Linked DNA regions of Homo sapiens. The protein of the gene in region 1 interacts with the protein of each later gene in a pairwise test. Each region holds a gene or a part of one and is shown in the gene's direction. Other genes may lie near its edges.

Evidence for each region. Proteins that work in one complex are often made in the same cells at the same time.
Region 2: the proteins of UBAP2 (region 1) and MGAT5B interact in a two-hybrid assay, tested with the Homo sapiens proteins (one large-scale study listed by BioGRID).
Region 3: the proteins of UBAP2 (region 1) and ZNF34 interact in a two-hybrid assay, tested with the Homo sapiens proteins (one large-scale study listed by BioGRID).
Region 4: the proteins of UBAP2 (region 1) and FNDC3B interact in binary tests that used the Homo sapiens proteins (3 or more experiments, as listed by UniProt).

Annotation. Positions count from the first base shown.
Region 1 is NC_000009.12:33,944,388-33,947,887, reverse strand, and holds part of UBAP2 (ubiquitin-associated protein 2), read left to right. Parts: intron 1-3,248; coding exon 3,249-3,500. UniProt on the Homo sapiens protein: Recruits the ubiquitination machinery to RNA polymerase II for polyubiquitination, removal and degradation, when the transcription-coupled nucleotide excision repair (TC-NER) machinery fails to resolve DNA damage. May promote the degradation of ANXA2.
Region 2 is NC_000017.11:76,944,904-76,948,403, forward strand, and holds part of MGAT5B (alpha-1,6-mannosylglycoprotein 6-beta-N-acetylglucosaminyltransferase B), read left to right. Parts: exon of another isoform or gene 1-354; intron 355-1,472; coding exon 1,473-1,547; intron 1,548-2,926; coding exon 2,927-3,183; intron 3,184-3,500. UniProt on the Homo sapiens protein: Glycosyltransferase that acts on alpha-linked mannose of N-glycans and O-mannosyl glycans.
Region 3 is NC_000008.11:144,777,318-144,780,817, reverse strand, and holds part of ZNF34 (zinc finger protein 34), read left to right. Parts: intron 1-537; 5' UTR 538-577; coding exon of another isoform or gene 578-586; 5' UTR 587-590; intron 591-2,292; coding exon of another isoform or gene 2,293-2,346; coding exon 2,347-2,379; intron 2,380-2,653; coding exon 2,654-2,780; intron 2,781-3,240; coding exon 3,241-3,360; intron 3,361-3,500. UniProt on the Homo sapiens protein: May be involved in transcriptional regulation.
Region 4 is NC_000003.12:172,046,078-172,049,577, forward strand, and holds part of FNDC3B (fibronectin type III domain-containing protein 3B), read left to right. Parts: intron 1-3,500. UniProt on the Homo sapiens protein: May be a positive regulator of adipogenesis.

The DNA of each region.
Region 1 (3,500 bases):
ATGTGCACCACTGTATCCAGCCTAGACAATATTTTACTCTATTATTTTATTTTTTTTTTTTTTGAGTCAGGATCTTGCTCTGTTGCACAGGCTGGAGTACAGTGGCACAGTAACGCGTCACTGCCATCTTGACCTCCCAGGCTCAGTCCATCCTCCCACCTCAGCCTCTCTAGTAGGTGGGACTATAGGCACATGCCGTCACTCCTGGCTGATTTTTTTGTATTTTTTTAATGTGACAGGGGTTTGCCATGTTGCCCAGGCTGGTCTGGAACTCCTGGACTAAGGTGATCTGCCCACCTCGGCCTCCAAAAGTGCTGAGATCACAGGTGTGAGCCACCACGCCCGGCCTGGACAGTATTTTAACTATCACACTCTCATGCTTTCTCATTCTAACATTTTGAAGTATCAACTATGATTTCATCAACCTTTACATTCCGTGGTTTGTATTGTAAAGGTCCCATGTGTAGACTGGATGTTTTCTAAACTAAACTCCCACAGAAATTGTGACATTAAGCCACCATTCCCCACCAGCACTCACATGCCACACTGTATTAAGGAATAGCAGGGGATTTCATTCATTGTGGAGCTGGCCATGTGGGCTGGTTTATGGTTAGGGCATATAGAGAGACAGGGAAGCATATTCCTCTGTTCTGTGAAATGACTTACTGTGTTGGAAGTACATGAGACCACTCCGGGGTTTGAAGCGATGTCTACCAAGGGAAATCATTAGAGACTCAGTGCCCAAAGTTTTTGCTGGGGCAAGAAATGTAGGTACCCTGTGCCTACATTTTTTGCTATAGCACATAGCAAAATTACAGATTCCTAGAAGGAAAGCAGATGTTGAGCATAAACCACATTGTTTATACAGACATTCTTAGCACAGTGAGCCACTCTTAATAGGTTAGTGTGTTGGCACCCTTTGCCAAGTACATACCAGCAGTCCAAATTCTCAGACATTAGCCAAGGTCCAGTCATCAAGCAGGCCTTTTTGAGAGGAATTGTAGGTCCCTATATTAACTTTTTCTGCACACATAACTAGTGAGTGATAGGACTTTTTAGATAGAACCATGCTATTCCCATATTCTTTATAAAACCTGTGTGTTTGGTGCATGCCTATAATACCAAGTTCAAAAATGAATGCGCCTAAACCAGCTCTGCCATTTGTTTTTTTTTAAATTAAATTCTGTTGACACTCAGCTAGCTGGGCACAGTGGCTCATGTAATCCCAGCACTTGGGGAGGCAGAAGGAGGAGGATTGCTTGAGCAGGAGTTCGAGACCAGCCTGGGCAACGTGATGAGACACAAAGGCTAAAATATTAGGTTGTTGTACTATCTGGCCCCATAGAGAAAAAGAGGGCCAACCTCTGTCCCATATGGTAGAACTGGCTTTTCAAATCAGTAGTGAAAAAACGCTTTATTAAAACCGTTTGAAAAATGAAGTTGGATCTCTATGCCAAAATGCCAGTGGGTCAGATAGTTAAACATAAATAGTGAATCTAGAACTATAATAGAGAAAACACAGGAGAATTTTTTTGTTGTTCTGTGTGAGGGAGACCTTTCTGGGTATGGCAGAAAACACCAAATTAGGCAGACAAACAATGAAAAAAATACTCAAAATTTGTATCATAGACAAAAAGAGTTAATTTCCTTAATATAAAAAGAGTAAAAATAAAGCAGATCAACAAACAGGTTAAAAAACTGGCTAAAGAGATAAGAACAGTCTATAAGTAAAGAACACTTAAGTATATGAAATGATACTTAGCACATTTGTATCATTTTAGTTTGTATTTTTTAATACCATTTTCCACCAATTAAACCAGGAGATTCAAAAGTGTTTGATATTAGAGTGTGTTAAAAAGGATGTGTTCTATCTGTGGACAGTAATTTTATAATATTTATCAAAATTCAAAATATATTTACCCTGTGAAGGGGCAACTTTATCCTACCAGTTGATCCTACAGGTATACTTGTACTTGCACAAAATATCTTACATACAAATGTATTCATTAGTGCATTGCTTTTAATAGCATAAGATTTGACCTAAAAGTCCATTAATATAGTACTGGTTTTATAAAATGATACCTATGTGTACTAGATTTCTGTGTAGTCACCAAAATGAGTATGAAGTAGCTCTTTGAACATTAATGTGAGACACTCAATGGAAATTAAATGATTTGTGAGACAGTAAGGTATATAGTGTGTGTATATATATGTCTGTCTGTCTGTCTGTCTATATATATTGTGATATAGTATCTCTGAAAGAGACATTCAGGAAAACCGGGTACAGTGTTTGCCTTTGTGGAGCAAGTATGGGAGAGTGGTGTGGAAGAGAAACATAATATTCGTCATACATATTCTTGTATCTATTGGATTTTGTTTTTTGTTTGTTTGTTTGTCACCCAGTCTGTCACCCAGGCTGGAGTGCAGTGGCGCCATCTCAGCTCACTGCAAGCTCCGCCTCCCGGGTTCACGTCATAGGGCCTGCCTCAGCCTCCCGAGTAGCTGGGACTACAGGTGCCCACCACCACACCCGGCTAATTTTTTTGTATTTTTAGTAGAGATGGGGTTTCACCATGTTAGCCAGGATGGTCTTGATCTCCTGACTTCGTGATCTGCCTGCCTCGGCCTCCCAAAGTGTTGGGATTACAGGCGTGAGCCACTGCGCCCAGCCATCTTTTGGATTTTGTAACATCATATATATATATATATCAATTAGTCCAAAAACTTAATAAGTTTTTTTTTTTTTAATTTTTGGATGAAGACATGGTCTTGTTTTGTCATCCAGGCTGGAATGCAGTGGTGCAATCATAGCTCACTGCAGCCTTGTACTCCTGGGCTAAAGCAATCCTCCCACCTCAGCCTCCCAAAGTGCTGGCATTATAGGCATGAGTGACTGTGCCTGGCTCAAATTTTTAACAGTTATGTAGAAAATCCATAAAATAATAAAAGTATGATTCTCTGTTAGCTAATGGTCAGGTGTGTATAGCACCATAATATTGTTCTCACGAGTTCATCACTCCCTATGCTTAAACATAAACCAAATCTCTCTGGATAGGAAACAAGGTGTGTACCCATTTAGGAACTTTTCCCGTTTATCATAAATGAAGTGTTACACATAGTGTGTGTAAAACCTAAGAAATTCAACTGGAAATGATTTGGAGAAATTGGTGGTAATAGAACACTTCATGTTCTATTGAAGAACATTGTGAAGCCATTATGCCTCATTAATTGCTGCTTACTTTTTTTAGACTTCAAATCTCAACCTGAGCCATCCCCAGTTCTTAGCCAGTTGAGCCAGCGACAACAGCACCAGAGCCAGGCAGTCACTGTTCCTCCTCCTGGTTTGGAGTCCTTTCCTTCCCAGGCAAAACTTCGAGAATCAACACCTGGAGACAGTCCCTCCACTGTGAACAAGCTTTTGCAGCTTCCCAGCACGACCATTGAAAATATCTCTGTGTCTGTCCACCAGCCACAGCCCAAACACATCAAACTTGCTAAGC
Region 2 (3,500 bases), on another chromosome or scaffold:
AACAGTTAGATTTCACCCACTGGCTAAAGACGGGAAAGCGGCCTCATTAGGAGATGGGCTGGGCCAGGTCAGGTGCCACCAGGCATGGTGGGGTGGGGAGGTTGAAGCCTAAAACAGACCTTTCTCTGAGTCCGGGATGGCTCCTTCCTGAGTCCTGACTGCTGCCCCTGCCCTTTCAGGTCAGTGATTTTCTCCACGGTGGCTCTGCACTGGGCCTGAGAAGGTTAATGGAACAGGAAGGGGTTGGTTGGTTAAGAAGTCGGGGGGAGGCAGGAGTACCCCCTTACTCCTCTGTCACTCTTCCCTCCACTCCCCTGGTTTCTTTTACCCAAGCTACTGCATGCATCTGCCCACAGGACAGGTTGCTGTGTGACTATTAGATATTTATTTATTTATTTATTTTTGAGACAAAGTCTCACTCTGTTGCCCAGGCTGGAGTGCAATGGTGCAGTCTCAGCTCACTGCAACCTCCACCTCCCAGGTTCAAGTGATTCTCCTGCCTCAGCCTCCCAAGTAGCTGGGATTACAGGCACCTGCCACCACGCCTAGCTAATTTTTTTTGTATTAGTAGAGCCGGGTTTCACCACGTTGGCCAGGCTGGTCTTGAACTCCTGACCTCAGGCGATCCGCCCACCTCGGCCTCCCAAAGTGCTGGGATTACAGGCATGAGCCACCGTGCCGGGCTAACTATTAGATATTTAGACAGACAACCTGTGGCCTCTGTTTGGGGGTTTGTGCCTGTGGGGGCAGGGTACTTTACAAATGTCATCTCATTCCCGCTGACTGGGAGATGCCCCTGTGTTCCTCTGCATGAATGTCCCATGTCTTGGGCAGGATACAGGCAGAGCTGGGGATGCCTTTTCATTCCATGACTATTTCCTGAGCACCCACTGTATGCCAGGCACTGTGCCAGGCACTGGAGATTCAGTGTGAACAAGCCATAGTCCCCACCCTCAAGGTGTCCATAAGTTTATGAGAGACATGACGAATACACAGGAGACAATAACACAGGGGCTCATTCTGTGCTGGGGGAAGTCTGGGGTGCTGGGAGTCACCAAGGAAAGTGTTCCTGTAACAGGAGTGGGGGTGGGGCTCAGGGAAAGCTCCCTGGAGCAGGTGATGCCTAAGAGGGTGGGTGGGCTGTGGGAAGAGGAGGTGTCAAAGCCCAGTAGGGGACACAGCGCTGAGCTTTATCCTCATTGCAGTTGGGACAGGGACCTGGGAGGGGGTGGGGAGGGATGAGGCTGGGCCTTGTGGGTCCTGAGCCTGAGTCCCGGAGGGCTACTGGAGGGTGTGCGGGGAACGGGGACTCTGAGCTGGGTGGAAGGGCCAGGTGGATGGGGTGGTCGGCTCCCTGGGCATGGCACAGGATGTGAGAGCCCACCAGACCTCCACCCCCAATGCCGAGCATGGCAGGGCCCCCGACGGCTGGGCCTTCTCCCGCCCCATGTGTCTGCCCATCCCTCCCACAGGTAGACCCCTACCTACCCTACGAGTACACCTGCGAGGGGATGCTGGAGCGGATCCACGCCTACATCCAGCACCAGGTCAGTGAGCCCTCTGGTCCCTGCCCCAGATCCTGTCAGACCAGAGGAGGGGGCTGAGCCAGCTTCATTGTCTGCCCAGGGCCCTGCACCCGTGAAACCATCCAACTCCCTGCTCCCTCCTCCAGCCTGTCCAGTCTCTTCCCAGAGTTCCCTCAGGGCTGGAGACAGGCAGGCCTGACTGCGGGCCTGGAAAGCAGCACACTCCGGGCACTCCTGCTGTCTGGGCCCAGCCTTAGAGCCCAACTCCACGGCACTAACAGAAACACAAAGACTTCCGTTCTTAGAAAACAGTGGTTCGAAAGTCTGCTAACTGATTGGGATTTGGTAACTGAATGGGAAGTGAAGATCCCCAGACTCTCCGCCCACCTGCTAAGGATGGCAGTGAGACTGGAATGGGAGATTAGGATCTCTGCCCTGAGAAACCAGGGGACAGCCCCACGGTTTCAAAAACTCGGCCACCTCAGCCCCCGAGGGAGCGCCTGGGCAGGCACCTGTCCAAGGAGTACACTCCTTCTCCTCCCACGGGTGCTCAGAGTGCCTGGAAGTCGTGGGTGAGGAGGAGGGCGTGCCCTATTCCTGGGGAGTCCTGGCCCTCCACTGCATCCTGGTGGATCTGAGCCACCATGAGGGCTGCAGGTGGCCCAGATGGAGCGTGGCTCTGCAGGCCCCGGGTGTCCAGGGTGATGCCTGGGGTGGGCCTTGGGCTCAGGGCCCTGGGGCAGGTGGCCGTATGGCTGTAAGAAATTTCCACAGATAGTACGTGACCTCCCTTTCCATCTTGTTGGCCCCACCAATATTAGGGGCTGAGAGAGTCTGGTTCTCCCCTGTCCCTTTACAGATGGGAATACTGAAACCCCCAGAAGGGAGAGTGTATTCAGGTGAGGGGGTGAGGGTCAGGGCCGTGGCCAGAACCCAGGACTGGACCCAGACTGGAAGCTCACAGAAAAGCATTCGCGGGGCCCTCCGGCCCCTGGAGTTGAACCCTGCAGGGAGAGCCTCACAGCCAGCCTGGGGCCCTGTCCCCATGGAGGGCAGGGCTCGTGGGCCCCAGGGTAGGAACCCCAGCCTGACCTGAGCATCGAGGCAGCTCCAGGGCACACAGGATGCAGAGGGCCCTGAATCCAAGTCCTGTTCTGCCATCCAACCCCAAGGCCCTGGGCGGATGCCGTGACCTCTGAGCCTCCATAATTCCTGTAAGCGATCTGGAGACACGAGTGTCCATGAGAAGTAAATGAAATAATGCAGGTAAAGCTACCTGGTATTCAGTAAGCGCCCAGTAGTGGTGGCTCGTACTGGCACGGCAGGGCCACACCTTCAGGTGTCTCCCAGGCACACCTGGGTCGCACTTCCCCACCCTGACACTGCTCTCCTCCTTGCAGGACTTCTGCAGAGCTCCAGACCCTGCCCTACCAGAGGCCCACGCCCCGCAGAGCCCCTTTGTCCTGGCCCCCAATGCCACCCACCTCGAGTGGGCTCGGAACACCAGCTTGGCTCCTGGGGCCTGGCCCCCCGCGCACGCCCTGCGGGCCTGGCTGGCCGTGCCTGGGAGGGCCTGCACCGACACCTGCCTGGACCACGGGCTAATCTGTGAGCCCTCCTTCTTCCCCTTCCTGAACAGCCAGGACGCCTTCCTCAAGTGAGTGTTCCCCCACCCTCCCCACCCAGCCGCTATCATCGCTGGCCCAGCCGGGTTCACTGAGAGCTCTCATGCCCAGAACCGGCCCTCAGCCCTGCCAGTGTGGGGGGATGTAATGCTTTCCAATGAGTCAGGAAGGATCCAGAAGGGATCCTCCAGGCCATTATCCAGGTCATTGCTGCCCTACTCTTGGCCAAACCCTAAACTACCAGGGAAAGCTCCTTCCATTGCCTGCTCTCTTCCACCCACTCAGCCCCCTGCCCAGCCTGTGGGCATCGTCCTGTCCCAGACCATGAAAGCTGTCCCAGGTGCTCCTC
Region 3 (3,500 bases), on another chromosome or scaffold:
TTTCGCTTTCTTTGCTTTTCTTTTTTTGGAGATGAAGTCTTGCTCTTGTCCCCCAGGCTGGAGTGCGATGGCGCGATCTCGGCTCACTACAACCTCCGCCTCCCGGGTTCAAGCGATTCTCCTGCCTCAGCCTCCTGAGTAGCTGGGATTACAGGAGCCCGCCACCACGCCCGGCTAATTTTTGTATTTTAGTAGAGACAGGGTTTCACCACATGGTGGCCAGGCTGGTCTCGAACTCCTGACCTCAGGTGATCCACCCGCCTCAGCCTCCCAAAGTGCTGGGATTGCAGGCGTGAGCCACCACACCCGGCCAGTTCTGTTCTTTCTTGACTGTGGTGCTGGTTCCATGGGCTTGTGCAATTTGTCATGGTCCACTGAACTGTGTACTCAGGATTTGTCAACTTTTATGATAAAAATATACTTAAATAAAAAGCTTTAAAGATACAGAAAAGATATATAGCTACCACAGCTTCATTTTAACTAGTGTTTGATCTAATATTAACTAATACTTAGCCTTTCTGTGTTATTTTATTTTAGGCCAAATAGTTGCATCACATGTATCTAATCCGAGAGTCTCATGCTTCTGGTAGGTGAGTCAATCTTATTTTACTTATTTATTTTGAGACAGGGTTTTGCTTTGTTGCCCAGGCTGGAGTGCAGTGGTGCGATCACAGCTCACTGCAGCCTCTACTTCCTGGGCCCAGGTGATCCTCCCACCTCAGCCTCCCAAGTAGCTGGGACTACAGGTGTGTGCCATCACAGCCAGCTAATTTTTTTTTTTTTTTTTTTTTGGTAGCATTAAGGTCTCCCTATGTTGCCCAGGCTTGTCTCAAATTCCTGGGCTCAAGCTGTCCTCCCGCCTCAGCCTCCCAAAGCGCTAGGATTACAGGTGTGAGCCACCGAGCTTGGCCCCTTCTATCATTTTTAATTTTTTCTTCCTTAGCCCTTAACATTTTGTCTTCATTCTTCCATGTAAAGTGAATGAGTATTGTCGTTTTCCTCCTGAATGAGACAGCTTAGCATGCCAGAGCAGGGAGGGGGATAGACGGCCCGAGGGCAGCAGGCAGTAGAGGTGACTGGAGGCTGGGCACTTTGGTGCACTCCTTTAATCCCAGCACTTTGGGAGGCCGAGGCAAGAGGATTGCTTGAGCTCAAGAGTTCAAGACCAGCCTGGGCAAAACCCCATCTGTACAAAAAAATACAAAAATTAGCCAGGTGTGATTGTTGGGGTGATCAGACCCAACACCAGGCCATGGGGGCTATGAAGTCCAGCGGAGTCAAAGGAATGAGAAAAGACAGGTTAAGAGTACTTAAGGTGGGTCCAGGGGGCCAACGCTAGTATGGAGGCTGTGAAGGCACCAAGCTCTGGGAGCCCACACTATTTATTGATGATCGAACAAAGAAGCAGGTGGTGAGGATGTGCGGACATGAGGGTAGACAGGTGAGGACATGAGGACATGGGGATAGAAAGGTAGCGGTGCATCAAGCGTAGCTGTGACGGTTTAGCATTTTCTTTGACACATATGTACTATGCTCTGCTACCTGAGATAATGGAGAACATGTTTATGAGCCTGGGAGAGCAAGAAGCAAGGAACCAACAAGTCTGTGCACATTCCAGAGGCCATGAGGGTTTTGTGCCCTGAGCCCTGGATTCCATCCAAGCCACGAGGGGTTTTGTGCCCTGAGCCCTGGATTCCATCCAAGCCACAAGGGGTTTTGTGCCCTGAGCCCTGGATTCCATCCAAGCCATGAGGGTTTTTATGCCTTGGCTTAGATTATGGAGCGGCAGGGCAGCCTTCCCCCCTTTGGCACAGAGCTTGGTGTTCCAAAGGCCATGAGGGGGTTTGGACCCTGGACCCAGGACGTGTTCCCAGACTCTTTTACATTATGGCAGACAAGCTAGTCCTGCCTCAGCTCTTCCACCAACAGTGGTGGTGCGCGCCTGTAGTCCTAGCTACTCAGGAGGCTGAGGTGAGAGAACTGCTTGAGCTCAGGAGGTCGAGGCTGCAGTGAGCCGAGATCACGCCACTGTCCTCTAGCCTGGGCAACTAAGAGAAACCCTGTCATGTCATTAAAAAAAAAAGAAAGAAAAAAAAGAGGTGGAGCTGGAGAGGGCAGCCCCAGGCAAAGAGTGGAGTCTATGTCCGGGAGGCCAGCTAGCAGTACCCACATTGGGATGGGCAGGGGTGGACCAGTGAGGCAGGCAGGGCTGTTTATGGCAGCACCAAGTAGCCTGAGCTGTGGAAGAAGGGGCCAGACTGGGCCTCCACTTGTTGCGTTCTCTTCCCTCAGCTCCTCAGTGACCAGCTCCTGCTCACTGCCCTCAGAAAGCCCAACCCTCAGGCAATGGCGGCCTTGTTCCTGTCTGCCCCACCCCAGGTGAGTGTCTGTCCTCCTGGGAGGAGTGAAGTTTTTACCCAGGGCTTTCCTTGGCAAACACTGCCAGGTGTCTCTGGTTTGGGATGCTGACATGATGGTAGGGGTGGCCCTGAGACCCCCATGCAGCCACCCCTTGGGATGTATTAGCTGGCTCGGTGGCAGATGGGTCAGGCCACCCACTGTGCTGCTGCCTTTAGCATGCTTCTGCTGCCTCCCCGCCCCTACCAGCCCACTCTGGACCACACCTGGGCTGCAGTAGTCCCTGTCATTCCAGGCCGAGGTGACCTTCGAGGACGTGGCTGTGTACCTCTCCCGGGAGGAATGGGGCCGCCTGGGCCCTGCTCAGAGGGGCCTCTACAGGGACGTGATGCTGGAGACCTACGGGAACCTAGTCTCACTGGGTAAGGCCCTCACCAGAACTCAGCTCTGGGAACAGCCCTGGGGGCTAAGGGCTCAGCAGAGGCTGGGCTAGGGGCCTCACCCCCTGGGCACAGATAGGTGATGACCTTTATCCCAGGCAGGCACCTGATCTGAGAAGATGAGGGGAAGAGCAGTGCTGGGACCTTCCTGAGTCAGCCCTTCCCTTCCCTCTCGCCCCAGGTCCCAGGCAGACCCCTCCCTGGTAGGGCGGGGGACACCGGGGGGGCGGAGTTGCATACCTCCTAGTGGAGGGAACCCCTGAGCTCTCATTCCCTTATGCTCAGGACTGCCCCAGCCCAATCTCAGTGCCCTCCAGAGAGTGTCCAGGCTTCCATCACCCCCTCTGCCTGTGCCTCCCTTACCCTGCAGCCCCAGGGTGAGACAGCACTAGGTGCTGCCCTGTGTCCTTGGTACCAACCCCAGTCCCTGTCTCCTTCCCAGGAGTAGGACCTGCAGGCCCCAAGCCTGGAGTGATCTCGCAGTTGGAGCGAGGGGATGAGCCCTGGGTCCTGGATGTTCAGGGCACCTCTGGGAAAGAGCACCTGAGAGTCAACAGCCCAGGTGCGTGAGGGGATCTGCTCCCCAACTCAAGTCACCGAACGAGCCTTTATTGGGGTCCAGGGTGTCTGATTAATGAATCAGGAGTTTGTGGGCCAGATTCATCGGGGCTAGCACAGGAGGCCTGACAGTGGCCTTTGCTG
Region 4 (3,500 bases), on another chromosome or scaffold:
TGAAGATCAGGGGACAGAAATGTTTTTAAAACCACCAAGTATAAATCACATAAGATCGATAGACAGTCGTGATCAGCCATCTACATACAGATGAGGATGTTTGTCAGTTTGAAAATGGATCGATTGTTGAATTTTTCTTTGTTTCTCCCCAGTTAAGATATGCAAGTTTAGCATTCTGTAAGTGTTGGATCAGAATTTCTGATGCCCTTGGCACTCACTACTCAGTGTCAGTTTAGACATTGGCTCCTAATTTTTTTTCTTTTTCTTTTTTAAGATACAGTGTTTCACTGCTGCTGGAGTGCAGTGGCTCTATCATAGCTTACTATGGCTTCGAACTCCTGGGCTCAAGTGATCCTTGAGTAGGGCTATAGCTAGGACTATAGGTTCACGCCACCATGCCTGGCTAATGTTTTTTTTTTTATTTTTATAGAGACAGGGTTTCACTTTGTGGCTCAGGCTGGTCTCTAACTTCTGGCTTGAAGCAATCCCCCCGCTTCAGCCTCCCAAAATGTTGGGATTATAGGTTATGAGCCACCTTGCCCGGCCCTGTTTTGTTTTTATAATATCATTAAAATACCTCATCAGTTTCAAATAACCATTTTGCAGGGTGGTAGGGGATTTTTCTGAGATGGTGTTGAGTCACAGTGTTATTTGAGGTTCTAGTAAGTATCAAAGTGTGTCTTGTGTTAAATGATTCTATTTGAGCTTAAAATGTAATTTCATTTCAGTTACTTGTTTATTGACTCAGAATGCATTTGTTGAGATCTAGACCAGGTTCTTTGTTAATGGAATGTTCTACTCTGTTCTGATGTTTTTGGAATCTTGTATAGAGAACAGTGTCTACCACCAAACTCCTAAGGCTGGATGGTGGTAAGTTCAACTCTTTGCTACCTTCTGAAATTTGAGAAATAGTAAAATTGGAGCACCTTCAGGCTGTGTTAGACTTTAAGGCTTCTAAATTATATTAGAATGTAAGGATACATCTTTGTTTTGACCCTGGAAAGAGTAGTAAAGATTTTCATAAAGGCCAACTAGTCATAAAAACTTACTTAAATTGACATGATCCTAACTCACAATTATGAAAAGCTTTCTGTTGAAATAATTGTGTAGAAAGTGATCTTTATACATGAACAAAGGTGGGATGTTTTAGAAATAATTGAAGATTCTAAGATCCCAGGAAATATAATGGTTTAATTTATTTTTAAGGGATTTAAGATTCCCCATAGCCTATGAAAGAGGGGTCTCTATTAAAAATAACGCCATTGTTCTAGATGTAGCTAATTAGGGATTTGCAATTATCTAGGCAAGGCTAGGATAAAGTTTGGCTGCCTATTCTGTATGAAAAGGTTTTACTGTAAATATCAAGTTTAAATAGATCTTAAGAGGAATATTTACCTAATTAAAAGAACAAACCACTTTTAAGCACCTTGGGAAAATCAATTTACTTAAAAGCAGTGTAAAAATGCAGAATGCATTCACTGATGCTGGTCTGCTGGTGGTCTTTTCATAGAGATACAGGAGCCCCTGGAAAGTCAGTGCTCTCTGTGGATTGCCATGAAATAAATATTGATTGACTCAATGCTATTATGTGAACTACAAACAGTTTACCAGCAATGGGTAGAACTATATTATTTGCTTGCAAAATACATCACAACAATAAACACAATATCTGCCTCCCCCACCCCACTCCACTCTACCAATAGACTCCAACTATGCCTATTTATTGGTTTTGGAGTTTTTCTATTGACATTTGTTTTGCTACTTGTTAACTTCTTTTGTCATGTGTAAGCATTTGATGGCAGATTGGGGACAGCAGGTGTTAAAGGTTTAAGAGCATCATTATTGCTTTTAGCTTCATTTCTTCTGCCTTTGTGTTTGGGCAAGATTGTGGAGAGTCCTGAGTTTAGTATTTAGATAAGGTAATTACATGTCCTTCTCCTCTACTTTTACTAAAGCAAGATCCTCCTGGGCAGCTTAGTTCCAGGTACTGTATGAACTTGCCAGTAATAAGAGTAAGTTTCTTTTAAAAGATTTCTGGATATTTTACGTTTTATACTCAGTCACTCAGATGCGAGGTTTTCTAGTATGTGTCTACTTAGGGGTCAGATTTGACCAGTTTTTAACAGTACAAGTTGTACATATAGGATACTTAATGTATTTCTAGGATATTATGCTTCATTTTCTCTTAGTATTTTAAAGGTTTTAAAAAACCCATTCTATACCTTCTATATCTTTTATTGTTTAAGTCATTCAATGGGAAAGAAAATAATAAAAGTCTTTAGATGCTGTTTCTGATTTTTCGATCATGGTTTTTTTAATCTCAAGAAAAATAATTCTGATTAAGAAATAGAGGTAAACATTATTCTGAAGTAGTGAATTAGAGAATACTTAAATATATTGAGCTGGAATCCTTGTGTATTGCATGTTGGGAATGTTAAATGATAAAGCTACTGTGGAAAACAGTTCTGTAGTTCATAAATATTTACACATAGAATTACTATATGATTCAGCAATTCCATTCCTATTCCTATACGCAAAAGAAAGCAGGGACTCAGGTACTTAAAAGCCAGTGTTTATAGCAGCATTATTGACAATACCTAAAAGGTAGAAACAACCCATGCCCATCAACAGATGAATGGATAAACAAAATATGGTATTATATATTGGAATATTTTGGTACAGTGGAATATTATTCAGCCATAAAAAAGAAGGCAGTTCTAATACATGCCATAACATGAATGAATCTTGAAAACATTATGCTAAGTGAAATAAGCCGGACACAAGAAGATAAATATTGTATATATCCACTTGCATGAGATGACTAGGATAGGTAAATTCATAGAGACAAAAAGTAGAATAGAGATTACCAGGGCTTGGGGGAAGGGAAGATGGAGAGATAGTGTTTCATGGGTTTAGAATTTCTGTTTGGGATGATAAAAAATTTCTGGAAATGAACAGTGGCGATGGTTGTACAACATTATGAATGTATGTAATGCCACTAAGTTGAATGCAGAAAATGGTAAATTTTTTGTTATGTATATTTTATGACAATTAAAAAATGCAAAAGTAAATATTGAAGATGTATCCTACACAGTCTCCATATGCCTCTTTACTCCCCCTTGGTCTGCTTCAGGCAGGTATATAGTTATTTTTTCTTCATCTGGCTGTTGCAGTGTAAATGGAGATTTCCCTAGGCCATTTTTTGGAGATCAGAGAGTTTCCTTATTTTATTAACTGACTTAAATTTAAGAGGAAAATGTTTAAAAGTAGATCTCTGGAGGGGAAAAAAGGGCATTTTAATATTGAGATGAATCAGGGAGTTTGTTAATATTGGCAGACCATGTAAGCACATGAAGATAATCTATCCTGAATAGCACAGCGAGTCATTTAGAAATCCAGTAGTAGGTGTACACTCGGACCTGTCACATTTTCTAACCTTTAAACATTGTTTTTTGTTTCTTTTTTTTGAGATAGAATTTCGCTCTTATTGTCCAGGGTGG